4 linked regions of the Homo sapiens genome follow. The protein of the gene in region 4 interacts with the protein of the main gene of each other region in a pairwise test. Each region holds a gene or a part of one and is shown on either strand. Other genes may lie near its edges.

Region 1 (7,028 bases), on a different chromosome or scaffold from region 4:
CATCTCCACATAAACCTTTTAAACTCTTCAGGATTTTCAGTGTTGCTTGCAGTTGTGCTGTCGTTAGAGAATATTACTTTCAATATTTAATAAACCTCAAGCTATTACATAAGTGACCTCAGTCTAAGGGAAACCCAGGTGGAAGAGATCTCAGAGGTCCTGAAGTCTAGCAGCATTCCTCTCTATAGCAGCTAAGTTTGCTAAGATTGTTGTCTTGGGGACTCACAGTCAGCATCTTATGGCTAAAGGAATTGTGTGAAGAGAAGGACTTACATGCCATATGGAGGGAGGCTATAAAAATTGCAATTTTCTATTAAAGCCTCCTGCAATTAGAATGGTTCATGGTAATATTCTCTTTTTTCAGAATGTTTTGTGGCCACTGCTGACTAGCTTAATTTTGTCTACCTAGTCTTCTTGCACAAAGGATTTGAGGCATCTCACCAGAATGTGAACAATGTAATAAAAGAAAAATTTTAAAATTAGTTACAAAATAAAAACAGATCCAGGGAAAATATAGGCAGAACTGAGACATCTGAGGAGGAGAAAAGAGTGTTTGCAGATAAGCAGGGTATACATGGATGTACAATTCTTAAAATTGGGCCACACATTTGACTGTGAGCTTCCTGGCAAGCAAAGCAAAAAGAACGATTACAAAGTGGTCCACAGAAGGAAATATTTTTTTCTGGATAAGCCAAGTTCTCTAGAGCCTTAGTTGAAAATACTATTTGTGGGTGGTTCTTCATAGGCCTGTCTGGCTTCCTGGTGGCTGTGGTTCTTGTGAAGTTGAGTTCACAAGCCCAACCTCTTGTTTTTAACATCAGTGTTTTCTTCCAGGGACAATGACTCATTCTTCCCAGGACACTGGTTCTTGTGGCATTCAGGAAGATGGAAAGCTTTATGTGGTGGATTCCATAAATGACTTAAACAAACTAAACCTCTGTCCAGCCGGATCGCAGCATCTGTTCCGTATGTGTGCTGGGGAAGGCACAGCAGCCCTTCCTAGCTTCTAGGCTACCTAAAAATAGCCACTGCTGACTGGATGTGTGGGTGTGGTGGAGGGGGAGGGGGCATTAGGAAGAGGTTGGCACTGGAAATGTTATTTGTTGTTGGGCAATTTTGCTTTTGTTTTCTGAATACTTGACAGGATTATGGGCTTTCTTGGATCCTACACGAGATTTGAACTCTTGACTTCAAATATTCTGAGATCCTGTGGCGTTTCTGTCCCTGGAAAGGGGTGGAGCCTGCAGAGCTGGACTCCTGGAGGCTGGCTCATCCCTCTCCTAGTGACCATGGCTAGGTTACCGATGGGGACCACTTCCCACAGGAGTGTTGTTTTATAGCAGATTGCTGAGAGAATGCTCAATCCAGAGCATTTTCTACTTACAAGTTACAAATTGTGCAATTAAGGGTTGGAGAAAGGGGGTGGGGGGAGCAAAATAAAATCTGCTAAATACTAAGTGTGTATCTTGCCTCCTAAATATTATAAATGAGCTTTATCAGATCACTCTGAGTGCCATCTTTTCTAGCTTAAATGCTGACATTCAAACACCAGTGTTAATTGCTCACTTGCCATTTGTTTCATATGCACTCTAAACTTACTGTTCCAATTTTATATCTATTATTTCCTGTCTAAATCCTTTCCAAGTTCCTCCTTTTTTTCTTCATTTTAATAAGTTCAAATTTTCATCTGTTTTTATTGCTGTCAGTCTCAATAGCAGTAGAAGTTTAGGTGTCAGCCCTATGCTGTTGCTTTGATTAGGAAGCAAAAGTGGCTGAAGCGTATGGCATAGGATGTACTTATAAGGCATGGGACATAAGCCACCCATCTGTCCATAATCAAGTGGCACAGTGAGTGGGACCAATTCAACGTAGGAGAGTATGCAAAAAGTAATCCAGTGATCTCCACTACCCCAGGTTTCTGCGTTGCTTATTCACTGCAACAAATAATCTGGGTGTTATTAGGCAACTAGATCTTGCAAAACGGTGATTAAATGCAGTCAATTCTTGGTTTGAGTGAACCAAGCTGTCGATAAAATGTAGCTGCATTCTCAGTTCAACTGCAAAGCATTTAAAAGAACGTTGCTTCCAGAGCATATCCATCCAGAAGACAGCTTTAAAAAACCAAAATAGGTCAGGGCCATTTTTGTTTAAATGGATGTAGGCTTAACTGATTATTCCTATAATAAAAGAAGTTTCCAGGGAAATATCCCAGAGCATTCAATTGAGTCTTCCACCCAGCATAGGTATCCCACAACCAGCTCTGTTTTACTCCTGGGTTACTTTGGGAAAGGGTAATAGAACTTCTATCACTCTTAGCCTTTAACTTCTATATTCCCTCTCCCCACACACAAAAATTCATGTTCTGCTATTTCAGTGTTAAGACAGTCTTCAAAGAACTTTCCAAAGAGGTCTAAGGAGATAGCTTAACCCTGCTTATTCCTTGAATACCAATAGAGAAGAAGGTAAATAATTCACAAATTTCTCTGTGCCCAAAGACATTCCTAAAACAGAAGTCACGGCCGGGCGCCGTGGCTCACGCCTGTAATCCCAGCACTTTGGGAGGCCGAGGAGGGCAGATCATGAGGTCAGGAGATTGAGACCATCCTGGATATCATGGTGAAACCCCATCTCTACTAAAAATACAAAAACTTAGCGGGACGTGGTGGCGGGGGCCTGTAGTCCCAGCTACTCGGGAGGCTGAGGCAGGAGAATGGCGTGAACCCGGGAGGCAGAGGTTGCAGTGAGCCGAGATCAAGCCACTGCACTCCAGCCTGGTTGACAGAGCAAGACTCTGTCTCAAAAAAAAAGAGTCACTTTCTAGGCTTGTCAGAGAGAAAGTGGGTGTGTCCATTACTCACGGTCTAACACTGGGGTACTGTTCAGTTCTGCTGACAAGTTGTATGCTGAGCAGTTTTTGTCCTTGTTTTTTGTTTGTTTCATATTAGCTCTAGAGGACAAAATCCCAGTCCTTGGCACAAACTCAGGAAATGGAAGCCGGAGTCTGTTTTTTGTGGGGCTGCTAATTGTGCTGATTGTCAGCCTGGCACTGGTTTTTTTCGTGATATTTCTAATAGGTAAGTACCACCACAGGTTTCTTTTTTATTACTTGTATGCATTTATTCATAGCTGGTTAACTTTGCTCCCACAAAGTTTGCACCCTCCAGTCAATGCTTCCTGGTCATCAATGCTTACATTGAAAAAAGAAGGAATGCCTTGAGTGAACACCACTGGCTGAGGACAGGGTCCCTTGGCCACAAACCCACTGCAGAAGCCCATAGTGCCAGAAGTCCATGAATATGTATGTTAAATAATTCTATAGCACTTTAGTTTCTCACTTGGAGCCTCTAGCTGCCCAATGGAAGGCAACTTATTCTGGTTGATTCTAGCTTTACTTTATCCAATGCCTAGATTTCTCCACTAAATTCAGATCTATAACATCGAAACATTGAGGTTTCGAACTGAACTCGCTCCCAGGTTTTCTCACTTGCATATCATCCTAGACATCAATGAGAAGCACTTGAGGGCTTGTGCAAGGCCCCAGAGACAGTGTTGGAGATGTATAAAGGTGGCTTCTTTCCAATTTGATCCTGTCCAGGCAACCTACTCCTAATATAACCTGCTTTGTCTGCTCTTGGCCTGGGCCATGCATGTCGTGACCTTGAGTGGTGACTCAGGCTTCCCCACCTCAGCTTCTCAGTCAAGAGATCCTTCAAGCCTTCAGCGCCACCCTCCTCTCTGCCTTGGATGTGGGAGGGGTGCTGTCCACCTGCGGTGCTGTCTTCCCGTTCTGAGCGTTGCCTCTTCCCACAGAGCCCACCAGTTTCCTCTCTCATCTGGAATTATTTTGATTCTCTTCCAGATGACTTAAGAGCAGACAGAGCCTAAGGGAAGGTGTCATCTTTGATACCTTTTTGCCTGGGTGCACTGCACTGTCATTTCTTTCACCCTTGAGTGCTTTGTAGCCTTTGGAAGGGCTCTAATTTAATTTCATTCAGGATTAGAGGAGGCAGAGGTGATGATGACGATGAGAGAAGACAGGTGGGCAGAGTTCATGATGACCCTTTCACCGCTTCCAATCCCATTTCCTCCCCCAAAGACTCCTCCCTCCTTACAGCTTGAAGGTCTTTATCTAGCCTCTGGAGAAAAGGGTTGGGACTGGGAGGGAGGGGTCATGTTTAATTGCTTCTCTTGCACCGGGCTGATGACCTTTTGCATTTAGAAGCTAACATGTGTACTATTTTTACAATAGTTGCAAACTTGCATCTGATGATGAATTAGGGGAGGCTTGGCTACTGAACCAGCAATGCCAGAAAGAGCACATGCGCTAGTATTCTGAACCGTTACTCCAACATAAATTAATACTGGGCATGTCATCCTGCCACACCCGCCTGGGGGTAATGACGGAGTTAAACTATTAGGAAATTTTAGGTATGTCTACAGACATGTAAACAACCCTCTGCCAAATTCTTTTTTTCTGTGAGATAAGTAGCAAGATTGAGGGAAATAATACCAAATGCTATATATTGAGTCATTACTCTGTCCCAGACACTGTGCTAAGCCCTTGATACCTCTTTGCTCACAACCTCATAACAACTCTGTAGTGTAGAATCCATTATTATTATTATTATTATTTTTATTTTTAAGATGAAATCTCACTGTTGCCCAGGCTGGAGTGCAGTGGCGTGATCTCAGCTCACTGCAATGCCACCTCCAGGTTCAAGCGATTCTCCTGCCTCAGCCTCCCAAGTAGCTGGGACTACAGGTGTGAGCCGCCATGCCCAGCTAATTTTTGTATTTTTAGTAGAGATGGGGTTTCACCATGTTGGCCAGGCTGGTCTCGAAATCTGGACCTCAGGTGATCCTCCCGCCTTGGCCTTCCAAAGTGCTGGGATTATAGGCGTGAGCCACCGTGCCCAGCCAAATCCATTATTATTTTGGTTTTACCAGTGCTGAAACTGAGATTTAGAGAGATCTATTAATGTGCCCAAGGTCACGTTGCTAATAAGTGCCAAAATGGGGCTCAAGGATACTCCACTTGACATCAAAGACTATGTACTTTATCAACATCACTATGTTCCACTTTTATGAATAGCTTTTATTTTATATTTGCCTTGAGTGTTTTTTATTGAGAACAAAGTCATATTAAATGAGAAACAGAAAGATCAGGTGAATAAAGAAGAGTGTTTTTTTACTGGATAATTGCTCTGTGTTAGATACATTAAGTTTATTATCTTAAATCCTTCCTCTAGCCATCTTAGAAAATTTAACTCTGATAAGCAAACCTCAAAGTGTTCCATTCCGTATCTTATTGCCAAAGGTCCTGTGTATTTGGAAAATATTGTTCTTCCATTCTAATGGGTGGTCTGAGGGGGAATTATTACACATTCATTTTGGGCTGGTAATTCAGAACAAGCAGACTTATGTCAAAATAGGCTGGAACCCAAAGAATGTAATTTCTCAAATGAGCAAAAACCTTTTTCTGAGAATGGGTCTCAAAATAAAGCAACATAGCAATCACTTCTGGGAGGATAATCAAACATGCTGACAGCTTCCTTTGGTTGCTCACAGCAAGGTCTTTTTTAGCCATAATTGGTGTGAAGTTGCCAAAGGTAGTCTAGGTTGGCACCAAGAGATTGTAAAAACAATTCACTGGATAGGCAACTTCAGCCTTCACCAGTTTCTCTACTGGGCTTCTGGCATGCATGGATATGGGAACAGGGGATTTGCCAAGAGTGTCTTTCAGCATCAGCTGAGCACCAACATGGGGATCTGATGAATTTCAGTGGAACACAGTGGAAACCAATGTAACACAGTCTGTTTTCTGTTTTGAAGTTCAAACTGGAAACAAGATGGATGATGTGTCAAGAAGACTAACAGCTGAAGGAAAAGACATAGATGATCTTAAGAGAATCAATAACATGATCGTAAAGCGACTCAACCAACTCAACCAACTGGACTCTGAACAAAACTAAAGGAATGATTTTCTGAAAGCACCTGCTAACACCTTGAGCTTTTTACTTTCCTGGGAGTGTACAGGGTTAGGAACTGAGAAAGTGCACTTCCTCAGGCAACAGATGATCTGGTCAGGCAACCCACCCCTGGGGCCCACTTTCTGCAGCAAGATGGGAGCAATTCCAAGGCAAGTGGGTATGGGAATAGCAACTAAAAAGGGGTGAACTTGTCTCAGCCCCCTTTTATGGTAGGGCACTTCAACTTTAATGGGGTGGGCGGCTAGCAGGGAGGAGAATCAACAAAGCAAGAGAACTTGACTATGTACGTCCAACTTCTTACAGAAGGAGCTTTGCTACCAGAACAAGTTCACTGTGTCAATGAAGTTCATGACACCTCATGCACCTTTACAGATATCTGGGAAAGCCTGAGAAATTCATTGAGTTTTATGTATTGAAGGGAACCAGGTGATTACTCTTTTCAATAAGAGGGATTCTGCTCAGGTGATTAGACTTTGACTCTATTTCCCCAGGGACAGTGATGGGTGGGCCCCAGAGCTAGTTGCTGTCTGGTGTTTGCTGGTGAAAACATGAGCAGTAGTTATGTGGGGCTGAGAGTCAAAAGGGAAAGCCTAATTAATTCAACTAATGTTTATTAAGCTCCTACTCTGTGCAAATCACTCTACTCAAGAGGAGCTCACATAAGAGTGCAGGATAAAGAAAGGAGATGGACAGTTATATGTAATTATATAAACTTTGTGTATTTTGTTTCTCATGAAAAAACCCCTTTGGCACCCTGCTGATTGATTTGGAAGAAATCTGATAGATTTGTGGCCTTTCCTAAATTGCACTAGGAAATTATGTAGTTAGAATATTTGGAACCTGCATTAGTTCCAGCAATGAAAGTAAGACACACAGCATATGACATAAGACACAGTGTGAAATAAATGAGTTTAAAAAGCATATGAGTCTTAGAAAATCTTTTATTTAATATAAAAATATTCTACCGGTCAATTGAAGAATGTATTATGATTCTATCATTTTGGATTGATCAAAAACATTTGGGTTTACTACGATATT
Region 2 (7,028 bases), on a different chromosome or scaffold from region 4:
TTGTGGGAGCTGTTTACAGCCTCAGTAAGTTCTTCCCAATGGCCATGTGGATACTGGTTGAAAAGTAGCAAGAGTAGGCCAGGTGCGATGGCTCACGCCTGTAATCCCACCACTTTGGGAGACTGAGGTGGGGGGATCGCTTGAGGTCAGGAGTTCGAGACCAGCCTGGCCAACATGGTGAAACCTCATCTCCACTAAAAATACAAAAATTAGCCAGGCGTGGTGGTGGGCACCTGTAGTCCCAGCTACTCGGGAGGCTGAGGCAGGAGAATCACTTAAACCTAGGAGGTGGAGATTGCAGTGAGCTGAGATCATGCCATTGCACTCCACCCTGGGCAACAGAGTGAGACTCTGTCTCAAAAAAATAAATAAATAAAAAGAAAGTAGTAAGAGTAAAAGTTGGGGAACAGAAGCCCTACATAATTGTTTAAGTGAGAGATGAAGGTGGCTTCAGTGAGAAGATAGCAGCAAAGGAGATAGAGAGGAGGGTGGATTCAAGAAGATTCAGGGGTTTAGCAAGTGAACTTGCCAGAGGATTGGATATGGGTGTGATAAGAAAAGAATCTGCTGGGCACAGTGGCTCATGTCTGTAATCTCACTTTGGGAGGCCGAGGTGGTTGCATCACTTGAGGTCAGGAATTCGAGTCCAGCCTGGCCAACATAGTGAAACCCCATCTCCACTAAAAATATAAAAATTAGCTGAATGTGGTGGCATGTGTCTGTAATCCCAGCTACTCAGGAGGCTGAGGCAGGAGAACTGCTTGAACCTGGGAGGTGGAGGTTGCAGTGAGCTGAGATTGCACCACTGTACTCCAGCCTGGGTGACAGAGCGAGACTCCATCTCAAAAAAAAGAGAAAGAAAAAGAAAAAAGGGCTGAGCAAGGTGGCTCATGCCTGTAATCCCAGCACTTTGGGAGGCCGAGGTGGGTAGATCACATGTCAGGAGTTCGAGACCAGCCTGACCAACATGGTGAAACCCCTTCTCTACTAAAAATACAAAAATTAACCGGGCATGGTGGCGTGCATCTGTAATCCCAGCTACTCAGGAGGCTGAGACAGGAGAATCGCTTGAACCCAGGAGGTGGAGGTTGCAGTGAGCTGAGATTGTGCCACTGCACTCCAGCCTGGGCGACAGAGCGAGACTCCGTCTCAAAAAAACAAAAACAAAACACAAAAAAACACAGGCCGGGCACGGTGGCTTATGCCTGTAATCTTAGCACTTTGGGAGGCCGAGGCGGGCATATTGCCTGAGCTCAGGAGTTCAAGACCAGCCTGGGCAACACAGTGAAACCTCATCTCTATTAAAATACAAAAAATATATATATATATTACCCGGGCATGGTGGCGTGCGCCTGTAGTCCCAGCTACTTGGGAGGCTGAGGCAGGAGAATTGCTTGAACCCGGGAGGTGGAGGTTGCAGTGAGCGGAGAACGTGACACTGCACTCCAGCCTGGCAACAGAGCGAGACTCTATCTCAATAAAATAAATAAATAAATAAATAAATAAATGAAAGTATCTGGAGAGGGATGTCCTTAGATGTCCCTAGAATCCTTCATGCAGAGACCTATCCCATCTTTTTCTCTCTGACTCTCCTCTTAGGCCTTATATGACCCCATCAACCCTGACAGGGAGACCCTCGATCAGCCATCACTAACGGATCCCCAGCGTCTGTCTAATGAGCAGGAGGTGCTTCGGGCTCTGGAGCCCCTGCTGGCCCAGGCCAACTTCTCCCCGCTGTCTGAGGACACCCTGGCCTACGCGCTGGTGGTCCACCACCCTCAGGATGAGGTCCAGGTACTTGGCTCCCTAGGAGAACAAAACTCCCAGGAGGCCTCTAGGGTGGGGCAGAGCCTCTGAGAGGCATGGGCTGCTGGGAGTTGTAGTCCTGAGCCTGGGACTGTGGCCCATATGGCGCACTTGGTGAACTCAGAGAAGGGGCTACTTTTGGCTGGATGCAGTGGCTCAAGCCTGTAATCCCAGCAGTTTGGGGGTCCAAGGTGGGTGGATCACCTGAGGTCAAGAGTTCAAGACCAGCCTGGCCAACATGGTGAAACCCCATCTCTACTAAAAATATAAAAAATTATCCAGGCATGGTGGCAGGTGCCTGTAATCCCAGCTACTGGGGAGGCTAAGGCAGGAGAATCTCTTGAACCCGGGAGGTGGAAGTTGCAGTGAGCTGAGATCGTGCCATTGCACTCCAGCCTGGGCAACAAGAGTGAAACTCCATCTGGAAAAAAAAAGGAGGTGCTGCTGTCTCAGGTCACTTCACTGCCATCTGTTGGAAAAGTATCATATGATATGGCTCTCTTAGGGCAAGAGACTTAGCACCATCTGCCAAAATTGTAATAATAAATAATATAATACAAGGCCGGGTTCAGTGGCTCATTCCTGTAATCCCAGCATTCAGGAGGCCGAGGCAGGAGGATCGCTCGAGCCCAGGAGTTCCGGACTCATCTAGGCGACACAGGGAGACCCCGTCTCTACAGAAAATACAAAAATTAGTTGGATATGGTGGTGCGGGCCTGCAGTCCCAGCTACTCGGGAGGCTGAGGTGGGAGGATCATTTGATCCCAGGAGTTTAAGGCTGCAGTGAGCTGTCAGCCATGATCTTGCCACTGCACTCCAGCCTGGATGACAAATTGAGAACCTGTCTCAAAAAAACAAAACAAAACACACACACACAGAGAGACACATTAAAAAAGAAAAAAAAAACCAAGCCCCTAAAAGCACGCAAAATGCTAACAAAATTATAAGAAATACTAAAATCAGCTGGGTGCAGTGGCTCACACCTATAATCCCAGTGCTTTGGGAGGCTGAGGTAGGCAGATCATTTGAGGTCAGGAGTTTGAGACTAGCCTGGCCAACATGGTGAAACCCCATCTCTACTAAAAATACAAAAATTAGCCAGGCATGGTGGCGGGTGCCTGTAGTCCCAGCTACTTGGGAGGCTGAGGCACGAGAATCACTTGGACCCAGGAGGTGGAGGCTGCAGTGAGCTGAGATTGTGCCACTGCACTCCCGCCTGGGTGACAGAGTGAGACAATATCTCAAAATAGAAATAAAAATAAAAACAGAAATAAAAAATACTAAAATCTCCCCAAATTCCACATTTTAGTGATTTTAAACTGCAGTTTTTCCAAAGTCATGTTTTGTCATCTCTGAAATTGGGATGTAATTTACAGGTGGTGGTGTGACATCATTTAATTGGCAACGTATTTTGTTTTTAGTTGCTTCATAAAATAATCAGGTAGAGTCAGTGGCACCTTAGATTCTAGGAAATATGGTAAAGATGACTTCTACGTGAATGGCACTGTGTTAGATCATGAGCCCTTGTGCAGTATACGACATGGACAACCATATGTGACAGCCCTGCCTAGATGGTGAATGGGGATAAGTGGGAAACGGGGGAATTATTTAGGGGCAGGACATCTGATTCTGGTATCCTGCCCTCAACACTCCTGCCCATGTTCACCCGCCACTGCTTCCTTCATCCCCCCGGCAGGTGACAGTAAATTTGGATCAGTATGTCTACATTCACTTCTGGGCCCTGGGCCAGCGAGTCGGGCAGATGCCCCTGAAGTCCAGCGTGGGCTCCAGGCGTGGCTTCTTCACCAAGCTGCCCCCTGCGGAGAGGTGAGGCGGCCCTTGTTCCCCAGCTGCAGCAAGAGGGAGCAAGGTTAGAGTCAAGAGGGGACTGACAGGTCAGTGTCTGGTTTGGGTGTCTGGGCCCCAGGCGGGAAGTTGAGAAATGGGAGGCGTGACTCATCCAAATGCTGTCTTTTCTTCTCAAGGGAAAGTGAGTACTACACTTGATTCCCAGGGGAAGAGAAAGGATGGGGACAGTTCTCCCCATTTTCCAATAAGGAAAACTGAGGCTCGGAGAGGGAGGTCCACATTCTGAAGATGCGGCACGGCCAGGATTCCAACAAACAATCTGCACGTCCAATACCAGGGATCGATGGCGCGATTGAACCGATCCCCTGTGGTTGGACACAGCTGATCCCTGGTTTCTTCCCCATGATTACTGAGTCGCTTTTAAGATGGTTGTGCGACTGTAGAGCCAGAGTGAGCGTCCTAGGATTGGAGGGGGCTCCCCGGGCAGTGCAGTCCCGATCCTGCTCCTGCCTCTGTCTCTGTCCCTCAGGAGATACTTTAAGCGGGTGGTCCTGGCAGCCCGGACCAAACGGGGACACCTGGTACTGAAGAGTTTCAAGGACACGCCGCTGGAAGGCCTGGAGCAGCTGCTGCCGGAGCTGAAGGTGCGCACGCCCACCCTGCAGCGCGCCCTGCTCAACCTCATGCTGGTAGTCTCCGGCGTGGCGATCTTCGTCAACGTGGGCATGGTGGTGCTAACCGACCTCAAGGTGGCCACCTCCCTGCTGCTGCTGCTCTTCGCCATCTTCATGGGCCTGCGGGCCTCCAAGGTGAGCATGCGCCTGCCACGCCTCCTGCGGCCCTGCGCTGTGGGGACCAGGTCAGGCCCCCTGTAGTTGTCTCTGTTTCATGCATTGTTCCTGCGTCATGCTCTCCTCCCTCCCTCCCTCCCTTCCTTCCTTCCCATTCTTCCTCTTTTCTTTCCCTTCCCTTCCCTCCCTGTCCTTCCTTCCTTCCCATTCTTCCTCTTTTCTTTCCCTTCCCTTCCCTCCCTGTCCTTCCTTCCTTCCTCCCTCCCTTCCTCCCTTCTTTCCTTTCTCCCTCTCTCTCCTCCCCTTCCTTTTCCCCTTTCCCTTCCCTTCCTTCTTCCCCTTCCTTCCGCCTCCCCTCCTCTCCCCTCCCCTCCCCTTCCCCTCCCTCCCTCCCTTCCTTCCTGTTCCTCTTTTCCTTCCCTTCCCTCCCTCTCCCCACCTCCTTCCTCCCCCCTTCCCTTTCTCCCTTCCCTCCCTTCTTGCCCTCTCCTCCGCTCCCCTCCCTTCCCCTTCCCTTCCCTACTTCATTTACTCAACACCCCTTAGGGGGGTTTCTTAATCTCTCTGAGCCTCAGTTTTCTCATCTGGAAAATGGGGATGATAGCGAGATCTGCCTTGTAGGGTTGTGAGCATGAAATGAGTGAGTCTGTGAGAAGCACTGGGCAGTGCTCGGCTCGTGGTAGGGGCTACATAAGGGTTGACAGCCGCTCACTGAGTGCCGGCTTTAGGGGCGCTTTAGTGATGCGGTGAAGGGGGTGTGTTCTGGAAGCAGACTTCCTGGATTTGAATCTGACTCTACTCTCTTCTCGCTGTGTGATCTTGAACAAGTTGCTTAACCTCTCTGTGTCTCAGCTTCAAAATCTGCAAAGTAGGGATGATGGTGGGACCTAACTCATAGAGGTGTTGTGGGGATTAAATGAATTAACATGCACAGTGCTGAGAATAGAGCCTCCCACATGGCACAGGAGGTGCTATGTGAGAGTTAGCTATTACCAGGATGATGATTATTATCATTACTAATTGGGCTGTTTGTTCCAAGTCCCCATCCTGACTGGGTATCATTATCACTGGGGGAGCTGGCTGACAAATGCAGCCTCCTGGGCTCCAGTCCTAGTGGACTGAATTGGAAACTCTGGGACTGGGGCCCAGGGAACTATATTTTTAACAAGCTCCCTTTTGATTCTGCTACATGTGAGTGCCGGGCTGCCTTGAACAGTTGCACAGGTTGTTCACCATCCAAGGATTCGTGGCCCAGGGGCCAGGTGGAGGCTGACACCCAACTTGTGCTCCGCTTGCCAAAATGCGTGTCCTGTCTCGAGGCTGAGTCAGCCCAGAGGGGAGCTGCCTTTTACTGATTCTTCCCAGGGTTGGCACCGGCCCCAGGAGTGTAGACTGGTGTGAAGCATCTGTCGTACGCGATCATTCACCTGCTGGCTCATTGGTTTTCAAGCTGTTTTCAGCCATGCTGACAGGCTCTTAGGAAGGCTGGTAATAAATCCCGCAGATAATAGCCAGGCTGTGCCGCCTGAGAGGGTGCTGGCATACTTGGGCCAACAGAGGGGCTGGGGAGGGAGCAATTTCTGCTTGGGACCAGGGCTCAGGTAGGATCTGAGGAAAGCTCTGGAAGACAGGAATTGAGCCTGGTGGAGAAAGAGCCCACGAGCTCAGCCTGGCGTATCTCATGGGGCTGGATCCAGTGAGCAGGGTAGAGAGGGGAAGTCCCAGAGGGTGGTGAGGGCCTTGAATGCCCAGAGTGGTACCCAAGGCCTTATCCTCAGAGCCGCAGGGAGCTGTGGAATGGCTGTAAGCTGCAACCATGGAGGGCAGAGGGGAGGGGCGAGATGAGAGGCAGGGAGGCCCGGTGCCTCTGGGGAGAAGACACTGAGTCCCAGCCCACGGTGACTATTGCCTCACCCCTTGCTGGCCCTTGGGGTGCTATGGAGCCTGTCAGGCTCTGAAAGACCCTATTTCAAACCCAATTCACACCAGGCATGGTGGCACATGCCTGTAGTCCTAGCTACTCAGGAGGCCAAGGTGGGAGGATCGCTTGAGCCCAGGAGTTGGGAGTCCAGCCTGGGCAACATAGTGAAACCCCAAATCAAAAAATAACAATAAAAAAGCCCAGCCAGGCGCAATGGCTCACACCTATAATCCCAGCACTTTGGGAGGCCGAGGCGGGTGGATCACGAGGTCAGGAGTTCAAGACCAGCCTGGCCAAGATGGTGAAACCCCATCTCTACTAAAAACACAAAAATTAGCTGGGCATGGTGGCACATGCCTGTAATCCCAGCTACTCTGGAGGCTGAGGCAGGAGAATCACTTGAACCCAGGGGGCAGAGGTTGCAGTGAGCTGAGATGGCATCACTGTATTCCAGCCTGGGCGACACAGTGAGACTCCATCTCAAAAAAAAAAAAAAAAAAAAAAATCCCAGTTGACAAGTTAATTTAGTGTATTCATGAATTCATGAGGTATTTCCCCACGCCTTGGGGTGAGGCCCAGCCTTTACATGTGGGCCCTTGGCTGGGTGCAGTGGCTCATACCTGTAATCCCAGCACTTTGGGAGGCTGAGGCAGGCAGATCACATGCAGTCAGGAGTTCGAGACCAGCCTGGCCAACGTAGT
Region 3 (7,049 bases), on a different chromosome or scaffold from region 4:
AAAAGAAAGAAAGCAATAACAGCCAGAAGAAAATGGGCTGGGTGTGGTGGCTCACACCTGTAATCCCAGCACTTTGGGAGACTGAGTTGGGCAGATTATCTGAGCCCAGCTACTCTGGTGGTTGAGGTGGGAGAATTGCTGGAACCTGGGAGGCAGAGGCTTCAGTGAGCCAGGATTGTGCCACTGCATACCATCCTGGGAGACAGAACGAGACTCTGTCTCAAAAACAAAGCAAAACAAAAAATTAGCCAGGTGTGGTGGCACACGCCTGTAGTGCTAGCTACTCAGGAGGCTGAAGTGGGAGGACCGCTTGGGTCCAGGAGGCGGAGATTGCAATAAGTCGAGCTTGCACCACGGCACTCCAGCCTGGGTGACAAAGCGAGACCCCGTCTCAAAAAAACAAACAAAAACAAACAAAAAACCCAAAAAACAACAAAAACACCCCCAAAAACCATAAAGAAAGCCAGAAGAAAGCCTGAGAGAGAAATAGAGAGAGGAGAGTTGGAGAAAGAAAGAAAGGAAAGGGAAGGAATACAACATTTCTGGTAAATTCTCAAATTTCAAAGAGGAGTTGTGAGGAACAAACATTCCTTTGACTTGGGAAGATACTGTGTAACTTTTTCCCCCATTCTATTTACCTTCCAAGCAGTGTGTGCTAATATTAATATTGACATCCCTGTTCATATAATAGCTTTGGGGAACATGTTGCATAGTTTGGGATTCTTTTCGGTTAACTGAGTTTGAACAAAAACAAGTTCAAGCTATTATTAGTTTTCTTTTCTGTGGGCTGTAGGGGCCAGACCTGCCTTAGTAGACTTCTTGTATCAGTCATTAAAAGCCTTCGTTTCATGCATTCATTAAAATGTTTACGCCGGTTCAAACTTGAAAATCTGCCCCAAATGGCAACGTGCCAGAAGTTGATTCTTGTTGCTTCCGAAAAAGGGGAAAATATCCCTTTGCTGGAGTAACATTTGCACTGGGTGAGAGAGACATTCCCTCCCAAGAATATATGGCTTTATTGAGTGAGGTCAAATGAAACTTTGTCCGGTTCTTTGCCCATGCAGAAAATGAATGTGTCTAATTTACCTTCCAAATGGGGGAAATGGGAGCAGAAAGGCAGCTTACTCGACATTGTTTGGAAAGACCATATAAACGCCAGGGGAGCTGTATCTCCAGCCCCATGTGGTTTTAGGCCCTGAACCGTTTACTGTCTGTAGTCTCAAAATTGTCTGCTCATAGCCAAAGGAACACTCAGGCTTAACGAGTTAATCACATCCAGAGGCACAAAAAGCTAGAACTTCAGCCAGAACAGATCCAATTGCTTTCCCAGACTGGATAACTTTGTTTTATAAAATAAGCTCAGTGATATTTCAAGGGTTAATTATAAGTCTTTAGAAATCCTGGACTTGCATTCATCTTTTAAAAATATTTACACAACTTGGCTTTCTATGGCACCACTCTGTGTGTGCATGTGTGCATGTGTGTGTGCGTGCATGTGTTTTTGCATGTGTGCATGGGTGTGTTTTCACAGCTCAATGCATTTAATATTTTCTCTCCAAACCTAGACATCTCCAAAAGCACACAGGAAGGTGAGATTTATCAGACCCATTTGGAAGGTGATGCTGTCTACTCACTTTAAGGTGAAATGGAGGCAGGCAGATGCCTCGCTCACAGCCACTGCCAGGTAGTAGGCGTGGAAACTGGGCCTCCTGCTTTCTGGGTCCTGTTTTGAAGCCCGTCCCTGAGCCCAGCGTCTCTCTTTGTGAAATCCATGGAAATCCAGATAGACTGAAGGATTCCTCTACTCAAGTACTTTAAGAAAAGTTCCTGATTTTTCCCCTTGTTAAGCCCGAGAAGGAGGTGGGAGGGAGAATGCCTCCCCTCTGCTATTCCTTGGCTCCAGGTTTCTCTTTAAGAAATGCAATCAGACCACATACTCCTCAGCATCTGAGAACACTTCCTCTGGAGTCCAGTTCTCCTTTCCAGGCAGCTGAGGGAAGAGAGACTTTAAAACTGGCAGAGGGCATCAGGGGTGAAAGGCAACCCTGAGAGTAGGAAAAGGCCAGGGAGACAGGCCGATTCCAGCAGGGGAGACTGGCCCATCTGGAGCGCCAGCACATGCCTGGGGATTTCCTGGCCTCACCTGCAGACACCCTCCCCTCCCTGAGGGTTGGGATGCTCAGAGATCACAGGGACTCTCAACCCACTGCTGGGAGTGGCCCCTCTCAGACAGGCATTTTTATTATCAAATGAGCAATGAGAGAGGGGAGAGGTGAGGAACTCTATGAGAAACATGCAGTCTTTTATCACGTCATCAGTTTTCAGTGAGAAAATCCAGACCTTCTTACTTTTACAGAGATAGAATTCAGTTCTCAGGGACTTGTGAAGATGCAGCATCATCAAATCATTGTGTGTGTGTGTGTGTGTGTGTGTTGTGTTTTCCTTATCATCCACCTTAGAAAATATTCTCCACATTCCCATGTTAAAATATTTTTTCCTAAAATCCATCCATCCACATGCCAACATCCTAAAGACAGTAATATAGGTTCATTGCAGAGGATTTGGAAAATACAGAATTGTGACCAGAACAAACTAAACTGCATCCATAATTTTATCATCGAATTTGATCAACATTTTGGTGAATAGCCACCAGTCTGTTTTCTATCTTTTTAGGGAATATAAGTTCCAAGAGGCAGGGATGTCATTCACTTCTGTGACTCAGTGCTCTGAATCAGGCCCAGTGAAGACTGACGTGCAGCCTGTATTGGCAGAATGAATGAATAAATACTACACACGCATATTTTGAATTGAAATAAGTTGTCAGGGTGCAGCAGAGAATAACAGAAATAGAATTGCTTGGATGTGCTGACCTAGATCCAAGCTGCTACTGGTAACGTACTGTATCTCCTTGAATAAGTCACTTCACCTCTCTGGGCCTGAGCTGCTTCTTCAGTAAAATAATCCTTGTAGCTAAGATTTGTTGAGCGCTCACTATGCACACTGCCATGAGCCCCTATATGTGTATTTCTCATCATAGCTCTATGAGTTACATACCTGCCATCTCCATTTTATGCATGAGAAAATAGGCATGGAGAAGTTAAGTGGTTTGCCTAAAGTCACACAGCAAATTTGTGGAGAGCTGGGCTTGAACTCAGGCATCTGGGCTTTTACTCTCTCCAGTGGAATGCCTGGGCTGTGGGATGAGATGACTTCACAGGCCTCTCCCAGCTCCAGAGTTGAGAGAGAGAGAGGAGTGGTGCAGGGAGGTAGTAGGGATGATTATGCTACTGGCCAAGTTCAAGAAAGTCAATTGTAGAACAAGGTCCAGCTGATTATTACAGAGAGCAAAGTTCTTAACTAGAGGACTTCCTCCTGGAATGTGGAGAGTCCACACGGGCACTAGCAGAGCATAATGAAAGACCAGGAATTCTCTGCTGTTCAATCAGTGCTCCATCACTCAGAGGCAGGGCTGCAAGAGCTCCTAGTGTGTCCCCTTCGCCTTCAGGGCCTCCCTGTACAGCCACCCACAGGACAGTGCACCAGGGTCAGGCAGGGAAGTAAATAAAAAAAGGAATCTGATAATTCCTGACAGTGAGCAGCAGCTGATGCTTTTAATGGGGGAGGAAGACTGGGAATCTCGCTTGATGATGACCTAGGACTTCAGTCAGCAGGACACTGGCCCCTTTCCTCCCCCTCCCAGGCTGAAACCTTGTGTTTTGCCTTATGTCCATGGTAACCAAGTCTCCTTTTTGGTGAGGAGGAATGGGCTTCAGTAAACAGATCTATTTGTGTGATCCTGTTACTCATTTGAAGCAATGTCCCTCCTTTTTTCCACTGTGGTCTGTGTGTCTGAGTCAGAGAGAGCCTACAACAGGGTTCTTTGAATTGATGGCTCACTCCCAGCCACTCTTGACTGACTGCCAGCTTAGCAGGGCGTAGCTTACCAACAAATCTTTTTTTTTTTTTTAAAGCCAGACTGATTCATAGAAACTCCTTTAAAACACGGTGAAAAGAAACCGCCCATTACACACCCCAGTACACCAGCAGAGGAAACTTATAACCTCGGGAGGCAGGTCCTTCCCCTCAGTGCGGTCACATACTTCCAGAAGAGCGGACCAGGGCTGCTGCCAGCACCTGCCACTCAGAGCGCCTCTGTCGCTGGGACCCTTCAGGTAGGACAGCTCCCAACGCTGTGGGGACTCTCAGCAAAACTTCTCCTTCCTTTCCACGGCTCTGCTTCTTCTGACCTCATCTTAGTTTTGCTTTTTCTTTTCTTCCTTCGCTATTTTTCTATGATCCTCTAAGAACCAAGTCCTTGAAACTTTTGGCTCAAAGTGGATACAGAGACAACTTTTTCTAGAAAGTTCAGAAAAGTGTATTTTGAGGACGGAGTCTGGGGAAATCAATGGGATGGGGCTAAAATCGTGCCTGGCAGTGACCGGGTTCTTGTTCTAGGATGTGGAGGGAGCAGGGACTTTGAAACAAACTGGGATAGGATCCTGTTTATGGAGGAAACACCACACACCTTGGAAATGACATCGGGAACTGGCCAGATGTTTTTCACCTCCTCCGTTTTGATTCCGATTGCTTCAGGACTTGAACTGTTACTCTGCTCGCTGGTTGTTGGTTGGGATTTTTTGGGTGGTGGTGGATAGATAACTGGTTTTCAGTTTATTTTTGACATTGCTTTTCCTGCCTGTTTGCTTCCCTATTCACTTCTGTTTAAATTTAAGTATTTTTTTTCTCCTCACAGGATGGGAAGAGGGGGATTGGTTTGTTTAAAGAAAACTGTTGGCCGGGCACGGTGGCTCATGCCTGTAATCCTAGCACTTTGGGAGGCTGAGGCGGGCGGATCACCTGAGGTCAGGAGTTCAAGACAAGCCTGGCCAACATGGTGAAACCCTGTCTCTACTAAAATACAAAAAGTAGCCAGGCATGATGGCAGGTGCCTGTAATTCTAGCTACTTGGTAGGCTGAGACGGGAGAATTGCTTGAATCCGGGAGATGGTGGTTGCAGTGAACTGAGATTGCGCCACTACACTCCAGCCTGGGCAGCTGAGTGAGACTCTGTCTCAAAAAGGAAAAAAAAGAAAAAGAAAAAAAATGAAAAAAGAAAACTGTTAGAGAGAGAAAGAGAGGGAGGCAAATGGTGTTTTAAATGAAACGTGGGAGGGGTTCACTTGGTCGAAGCAGGAGCTGATGAGGATTCCAGATGCCTTCTCTTGGCCAGATGTGGAGGGCGGGGGAGGCAAAAGGGAAGCTGGGTTTGGAGAAGAGGGTGGGGCAGGAGAACTTCATCTGTGCCTGTTAAAAATTGTTGAGTGGCTTTGTGCTTTCACCCCAGAAAGAGCTGCCTTTCAGTGCTGAGTGAAAAGATGGCATACCAGAAACGATAAAAGAACTTTTAAAAGAAAGTGGATGTGGAATTTCTTTGCATGGAAGGCAGTGATTGTTTTGAAATGCTTATCTTTTCTCTTGTTCCCGAAATGTGATTGTATAAATGCAAACACTCATGCTAATCATGAAATCTGGAGGAATGAAGAAGGGTGCTTTTTCTTTTTTTTCTTTTTTTCTTTTTTTCGGTTAGCATTTTGGGTGAGTGTCTACCGAGGTGTGGCCCATTTCAACATAGACACTGGTATATTTTTTCCCCAAGTAAACAAGATGAGAATGACAGGATTCAGCTTGTCTGACAAAGTTAGGCTTTTCCTTTAGAAAGGCAGTACGTTGGGAGAGAAGTTACATGTAATCAACCCTGTGTTGAGCAGGCAATGCTCCTTGTAAAACTGCCCCAAGGGGGACGATTGAGTAGGCATCAGGGCAACTTTTCAAGATGAAGGGAACTCCTACATTTGCTTCACATGTTTATTATTTCCACATTACATGGATGTGGATTAGCCATTATTAAATCAATAGTGTTAATATCCTGTGAAAATTATACAAATCTTTTAGTTCTGTGCAGGTTAAAACTAATAACCAGTCAACACACGGAAAGCCCTGACAATGTTGGGAGTGTAAACCATCATGAACTGCATTATTTGTGGCAAGGTTTCACATGATACTGTAGGTTTATAAAGGAGAAAATATGCTACATGTTACTTCCTGGAGTTTGAAGACAATTTAGAAAAATACCGTTCTGATTCCTGCTCTCTGCTCTTCCTCCAAGAAGTAGTGAAAGAGTCCCTTAGCTGTGAGAGTTTTTCTGGATTTCAGCTTTGACAATCCCGAAATGTGAGGGTTATTTTTCCCCCCCACTCTGCCCGCTGCCTCCCACCCTCAGGGGCAGATCCAATTCCACCCAGACTCCGAAGAATGGGGCGGGGGCGGGGGCTGCAGGACATCCTGTCTGGCGCCCTGGTCAGAGGGCCCCCCACATTTACATTGTTTGTGGGTACTAAACTGTCTTGGGAGTTGGCAAAAGGCCATCAAGAACCAACTTGGAGCAAATCACATCCTTAGAATCTGGCTATCTCCCAGGACTGCTGGGCAGACCGCTGGGGAAAGGAAAGAGATCCCTTCTGTGGAGAGTGGAAAGGACTCACTGTGCCTTCCTCAGCCCTTCCTGCTTCCTCCAGAGACCAGATTAGGCCCATCAAGTTCCCAGCCTTGTCAGTGGGCTTCATGGAGACCCCTCACCCGGGAATGTAGACCCTCTTGGCTTGCTCTGGGTGGCTCTAGGGATTTCAGGTAGTGCCAGACCCACAGGGACTACTGGAGAGAGACACGTTGAAGACCGGGGAAAACTTGTGGATGAGGCAAGACTGCTTTTCTGTAGACTCTATGGAGCCTGGTGGGGCACATAACTGAAACGTGGACACAGGAAAGGGCAGGAGGCAAGTCAGTTCCATTTCATCCTTCATTTCGTTCACAGAATTCTAAATTTGGGAGGGATCTTGGATCTCATTCATTCTCCTACTGTATGCAGAAATCTAATTTTTACACCATCTTGAACAGATGGCCATCCTACAGATCTTAAAATTTCCAGATGCGGGGAGCTCAGAACCTCAGTGTGTACCTCCACACTCATTCCCCTTAGCAGGCCAACTCTA
Region 4 (6,556 bases):
GGCTGATCTTGAACTCCTGACCTCGTGATCCGCCCACCTCAGCCTCCCAAAGTGCTGGGATTACAGGTGTGAGCCACCATGCCCGGCCCTAATCTTTGATTTTTTTGTAGAGATGGGGTCTCCCTACGTTGCCCTGGCTGGTTTCAAACTCTTAGACTCAAATGATCCTCCTGCCTTGGCCTCCCAAAGTGCTGGGATTACAGGCATGAGCCACAGTGCCCGGCCCAAAGAGAGAATTTAATATGACCTTCAACCCACCACCCAGACATAATGACTGGCAGCACTTGCTTGTTTTTGTTGTACTTGCTTTTGAGCACGTCAAGAGGCAGTTTCAAGTAAATCATGGAGGTTGAGTTACTGTCCTGAGAATGACAGTCCCAGAGTGCAAGGCCACCCTTGCTCCTATCTGGAGGTGTCCCCTCAATGCTCTTCCCTACTGTTATCAGCTTCCAGGTGGGTATCTGGAGCTCTTGGCATCTGGACCAGGATTTTTAGACATCAAGTTAAAGAACAACTAGAAGAAAATATAATTAAATATTGGCCAGGTACGGTGGCTCATGCCTGTAAACCCAGCACTTTGGGAGGACAAGATGGGCAGATGACTTGAGGTCAGGAGTTCAAGACCAGCGTGGCCAAAATGGTGAAACCCCAGCTGTACTAAAAATGCAAAAATTAGCTGGGCATGGTGGCACGTGCCTGTAATCCCAGCTACTGGGGAGACGAGGCAGGAAAATCACTTGAACCCAGGAGGCAGAAGTTGCAGTGAGCTGAGATCATGCCACTGTACTCCAGTCTGGGTGACACAGTAAGACTCTGTCTCAAAAAAAACAGACAAACAAAAGGCCAGGCATGGTGGCTCATGCCTGTAATCCCAGCACTTTGGGAGGCTGAGGTGAGCAGATCACGAGGTCAAGAGATCGAGACCATCCTGGCCAACATGGTGAAACCCCGTCTCTACTAAAAATACAAAAATTAGCCAGGCGTGGTGGCACGTGCCTGTAGTTCCAGCCACTCGGGAGGCTAAGGCAGGAGAATCGGTTGAACCTGGGAGGCGGAGGTTGCAGTGAGCTGAGATTGCGCCACTGCACTCCAGCATGGCAAGAGAGGGAGATTCTGTCTCAAAAACAAACAAACAAACGAAACACCGGCTGGGTGCGATGGCTCACGCCTATAATCCCAGCACTTTGGGAGGCTGAGGCGGGTGGATTACCTGAGGTCAGGAGTTCAAGACCAGCCTGGCCAAGAAGGTGAAACCCCATCTTTATCAAAAAATACAAAAATTGGCCGGGCGCGGTGGTTCACACCTGTAATCCCAGAACTTTGGGAGGCTGAGGCAGACGGATCACAAGGTTAGGAGATCGAGACTATCCTGGCTAACATGGTGAAACCCCATCTCTACTAAAAATACAAAAAATTAGCCGGGCATGGCAGCGGACGCCTGTAGTCCCAGCTACTTGGGAGGCTGAGGCAGGAGAATGGCACGAACCTGGGAGGCGGAGCTTGCAGTGAGCCGAGATCGTGCCACTGCACTCCAGCCTGGGCGGCAGAGCGAGACTCCATCTCAAAAAAAAAAAAAAAAAAAAAAATTTGCAGGGTGTGGTGGTGCACACCTGTAGTGCTAGCTACTAAGGAGGGTGAGGTAGGAGAAACCCTTGAACCCGGGAGGCGGAGGTTGCAGTGAGCCCAGATCGTGCCACTGCACTCCAGCCAGGGCAACAGAGACTCTGTCTCAAACAAACAAACAAAAAGCAAAAACTTCAATGAGTGTGAAAGTACATAATTAAAATCAAAAGAAAAGTACACAGACCCAAGTGACTAAATGGGCAGAGGCTTCAAATTGATAATTAAGAAGCCACACACAGCTGGGCATGGTGGCTTGCGCCTATAATCCCAGCACTTTGGGAGGCCAAGGCGGGTGGATCACTTGAGGTCAGGAGTTTGAGACCAGCCTGGCCAACATGGCAAAACCTGGTCTCTACTAAAAATACAAAAATTAGCCAGGCATGGTGGCAGGTGCCTGTAGTCCCAGCTACTTGGGAGGCTGAAGCACGAGAATTGCTTGAACCTGGGAGGTGGAGGTTGCAGTGAGCTGAGATCGCACCACTGCACTCCAGCCTGGGCAACACAGCAAGACTGTCTCAAAAAAAAAAAAAAAAAAAAAAGCGCCACACACGTATTAGTCACACTCCCTAGGCTAAGAAACCCAATAAAATAAGAAAGACCATTTCTCATCTCTCAAGTTAGCAAATATATGTGTGCACGTGTGCATGTAAATATAATTTTTTTCCTATGGGGATGCCTAATGGTGGCAATATTATACCCTGCGGGGGAGCTGTGGACAGTGCTTCTGGAGGACAGTTTGGTAATAGCTTTAAAAAAAATCAGGCCGGGCATGGTGGCTCACACCTGTAATCCCAGCATTTTGAGAGGCCAAGCAGGATGGATCTCTTGAGACCAGGAGCTCGAGACCAGCCTGGGCAACATAGTAAAACCCTGTCTCTACAAAAAATACAAAAAAAATTAACTGGGCATGGTAGTGCATGCCTGTAGTCCCAGCTACTGGGAAGGCTGATGCAGGAGGATCACCTGAGCCCAGGAGGTGGAGGCTGCGGTGAACTGTGATCACTCCACTGAACTCCAGCCTGGGTGAAAGAGTAAGAATCTGTCTCAAAAACAAAACAAAAATCTCAGGCCAGGCGCGATGGCTCACGCCTGTAATCCCAGCACTTTGGGAGTCTGAGGCGGGCGGATCACTTGAGGTCAGGAGTTTGAGACCAGCCTAGCCAGCATGGTGAAACCTGGTTTCTACTGAAAATACAAAAATTAGCAGGGCGTGGTGGCACACATCTGTAATCCCAGCTACTTGGGAGGCTGAAACAGGAGAATCACTTGAACCCAGGAGGTGGAGGTTGCAATGAGCCAAGATTGCGCCACTGCACTCCAGCCTGGGCAACAGAGCAAGACTCTGTCTCAAAAACAAAAAAACAGGCCGGGCACGGTGGCTCACGCCTGTAAATCCCAGCACTTTGGGAGGCCGAGGTGGGTGGATCACAAGGTCAGGGGTTCAAGACTAGCCTGGCCAAGATGGTGAAACCCCATCTCCACTAAAAATATAAAAAGTAGCTGGGTGTGGTGGAAGGCGCCTGTAATCCCAGCTACTCAGGAGGCTGAGGCAGAGAACTGATTGAACCCGGGAGGCAGAGGTTGCAGTGAGCCGAGATCTTGCCATTGCACTCCAGCCTGGGCGACAGAGGGAGACTCCATCTTAAAAAAACCAAACCAAAACAAAAAACGACCAAATGCAGTGGCTCATGCCTGTAAATGCCAGGACTTTGGAAGGCCGAGGCGGGCAGATCACTTGAGGTCAGGAGTTCCAGACCAGCCTGGCCAACATGGTGAATCCTCATCTCTACCAAAAATACAAAAATTAGCTGGGCGTGGTGGCACACGCCTGTAATCCCAGCTACTCAGGAGGCTGATGCAGGAGAATCGCTTGAACCCAGGAGGTGGAAGGTGCAGTGAGGCGAGATCACGACATAGCACTCCAGCCTGGGCAATACAGGGAGACTCCATCTCAAAAAACAAACAAACAAACAAAAATCCCTGCTCTTGGATCCAGTAATTCCACTTCTGGGAATTAAACTATCAGGAAATTGGGAAAAAACCTTCATATTCAACGGTGGATGTCCTGGGGGTTAATTTCAAAAGGGAACTGCAGCGGTGAGCCAAGATCGCGCCATTGCGCTCCAGCCTGGGCAACAAGAGCGAAACTCCGTCTCAAAAAAAAAAGGGGGGCGGGGACTGCAAACAACCTAGATGCCCAGGCAGCCTCAGGGAGATGTGTGAAGGGAGAGACCTCAGAGGCATGTGCAACAGTATAACAAAGAAGGGTCTCCCCAACAGTAAATGTTGAATGAAAACAGCAGGGTTCACACATGTACAGCAGAGTCACACTGAGTATGTTAACAAACACAGAACCAAGGCCAGGAGGGAAAGGCACCAGAGTGGCTACAATAGGGCTTTCTGACCAGAAGATGCCAGGCATTGGGTCTGCAGGGAGAACTGACAAAAGAGGCAGGACTGAATTCCATTTGCTGCAGGTTTAGCATTCAAGGCTGATAAACTGCTAGAAATAAGCAGGCAGAGGAATGCCTGAGTGAGTCCCTGGGGTGCTTGGAAGGAAACAAATCAAATGTACCTGTTGCTCCTGTATACAGAATAAGCCTGTAAGGGTCTGGGATCATCCTGGATCCAAATCAAGGGTAATTCCTGAGTCAGTTTTAGGGGATTTGGAACCAAATGTCCCACTATCCCTATCATCCGCAAGTCCTTGCTGCCTGAAGCCACCTGGTAGAAGGAAGGGGGTTGACCCACCACTGGCTAAATCAGCCTGCGCTGCCCCTGCAGACTCCGTGGCGCCAATGATGCCCAGCCAGAGGAGCAGGGGGCCATTGGCCCCCAACCACGTGCATGAGGTATGCCTGCACCAGGTGGAGTCCATCAGCGACCTACATAGTGGAGGTGAGTGGGGACAGTGGGGTGGATGATGTGCTGGGGGAGGGGACGAAAGCAGGTGCACCCACCACCCTCCCAATGTCCCATCCACCCAGCAGGCACACTGCGCCCCTATCTAACTGAAGAGGCACGACCGTGGGATGAGCTGCTGGGCGTTTTGCCGCCGTCACTGTGTGCCCAGGCTGGCTGCAGCCCTGTGTACAGACGAGGAGGGTTCCTGCTGCTGCTCGCGCTGCTGGTGCTCACTTGCCTAGTGCTCGCACTCCTGGCTGTCTACCTGAGCGGTATGGACGCATAGGGTGCTAGTAGGAATGGAAAGCAAGGCAGTGGGGACTGGGAGGCCCTTCTGTGCAGCTGGAAGGAGTAACTGCAGATGCTGCAGCAGTGAAGGATGGGGCGGGAGGCCCGTGGCTGCCCCTGGTCCTGGGCTGGGTCTGCAGGGGTCACGGGGTGGCACATGGTCTGATGATCCCCCACTTCCCATTCACAGTGCTGCAGAGTGAATCCCTGCGCATCCTGGCACACACGCTCCGCACGCAGGAGGAGACACTACTCAAACTCCGCTTGGCCAGCCTCAGCCAGCTTCGGAGGCTCAACTCCAGTGAGGCCCAAGCACCCAGCTGAGATGCCATTTGGATCTGGGGCCTGGGGGTGTGTGTTGGTGGGGGAATAAAGTGGCTATGGGCAGGTCTCTCCTTCCCTACTGCTGGCTGCCACATCTACACTATTTCCTTGGTGAGATTTTTGTACAAGAACCTGTTGTTAACTTAATGGCTGCCTCCCTCTCCTGATCTCTTCAAGCCAGGCCTAGCCAAGCCTCTGGTGCCAAAGCCTCGCTTTGGGTGGCCCAAGGTCAGGGGAAGGGGCACCAGCCTCCTGGCTCCTCCTGTGGCCTGTCAACACTCTCTGGCCACCCCAGATGGCAGGTTCTGAAGTCTAGAAATAGCTGCCCCCATAGCAATCACCCAAACTCTGCCAGGGCTCCCAGTGAGGGTCCAGCCTCAGCTCTTAAAGACAGGCTGGGCTCTGAGTAGGGGGAGAGGCACCACCTGGGGAAGACTGCCTTGGAGGGCAAAGGTGACATCGTGGAAGACCAGTTGGGCCCAAGCCTGGGATAGTAGATGGGGAGGGAGAACAGAAAAATACCCAGGGGTTAAGACCACAGAAGGCTGACCGTTCTGTTTAATTATCTGTAATAATCCTTAAAAATCAGCACACAAATCCATTCCAGGTAGCTTTGCCACCCCACCTGCTGTGGTGGCATTTGTCCAGATGCCACCACCCCCCTAAGAGTGGGTCATCCTGGGGGAGCAAGGCCTGAGAAAGGAAAGGAAGGGAAAGGCCCCCTAGTGCCTGCCCCACAGCCCTGAGGAAGGCACATATTTAGCCTGGCCTGAGACAGGACAGGAAGGGGCCACAGGGCTGAGTGCAGGGACAAAGGGGTCAGGGTCCCAAGTGTCCGGGCCCCCAGCTACCCACCCCATGTCTGTTTTTGGTTTTGTCATTAAAAAAAATAAAGTGACAAATACTGGTGGAGACCAGTTGTTGCACTGTCTTCTGTTAAAAATACGGACCAAGGGCATAGAAAGTCTCCTCTTCAGCAGGTCCTGCTTCACAGGATGTCTGCCCGCTTGTCCCGCACACGGCTTCGAGCCTTGGTCCGGGCTTTGAAGGCAGCAGCATTGTACAGGTGCTAGAGTGGGGACAGAGAGTGACACCCTGGGGAGCTGGGAAGGGAAAGGGCTGGGGGTCCTCTTCCGGCCTCTACAGAATTCCAGGCCTCCAGGAAATGGGAATAGGGGGAAGAGAAAGGTGCCCAAGGGTGCAAACCTTCTCAAAGCGTGGAACCTTGCAGGCCTTCAGGGCAGTGGCATCCAGCAACAGCACAGGGCCCAGGCCAAAGATGTCACGGAGTAGCTCATTGTTCTGGGGGGCAGAGGGCAGTGAGCTCAGGCCAGACTGAAGCAACCACACCAGATGTCCCCTCCCTGTCCGTCCCCGCACCTGGAGGTGGTGGTGCATGCCCGAACCCAGCACTTCC

Evidence for each region.
Region 1: the proteins of LSMEM2 (region 4) and LSMEM1 interact in binary tests that used the Homo sapiens proteins (3 or more experiments, as listed by UniProt).
Region 2: the proteins of LSMEM2 (region 4) and TMEM143 interact in binary tests that used the Homo sapiens proteins (3 or more experiments, as listed by UniProt).
Region 3: the proteins of LSMEM2 (region 4) and EMP1 interact in binary tests that used the Homo sapiens proteins (3 or more experiments, as listed by UniProt).

Annotation. Positions count from the first base shown.
Region 1 is NC_000007.14:112,483,978-112,491,005, forward strand, and holds part of LSMEM1 (leucine-rich single-pass membrane protein 1), read left to right. Parts: exon of another isoform or gene 1-834; 5' UTR 835-839; coding exon 840-966; intron 967-2,945; coding exon 2,946-3,074; intron 3,075-5,832; coding exon 5,833-5,972; 3' UTR 5,973-7,028.
Region 2 is NC_000019.10:48,339,926-48,346,953, reverse strand, and holds part of TMEM143 (transmembrane protein 143), read left to right. Parts: intron 1-1,599; coding exon 1,600-1,794; intron 1,795-3,502; coding exon 3,503-3,633; intron 3,634-4,144; coding exon 4,145-4,424; intron 4,425-7,028.
Region 3 is NC_000012.12:13,192,701-13,199,749, forward strand, and holds the start of EMP1 (epithelial membrane protein 1), read left to right. Parts: upstream 1-4,025; 5' UTR 4,026-4,172; intron 4,173-7,049.
Region 4 is NC_000003.12:50,282,064-50,288,619, forward strand, and holds the end of LSMEM2 (leucine-rich single-pass membrane protein 2), read left to right. Parts: intron 1-4,407; coding exon 4,408-4,521; intron 4,522-4,610; coding exon 4,611-4,799; intron 4,800-5,005; coding exon 5,006-5,139; 3' UTR 5,140-6,051; downstream 6,052-6,556. Other genes in the region: IFRD2 (interferon-related developmental regulator 2), read right to left, coding at 6,128-6,208, 6,346-6,441, 6,520-6,556.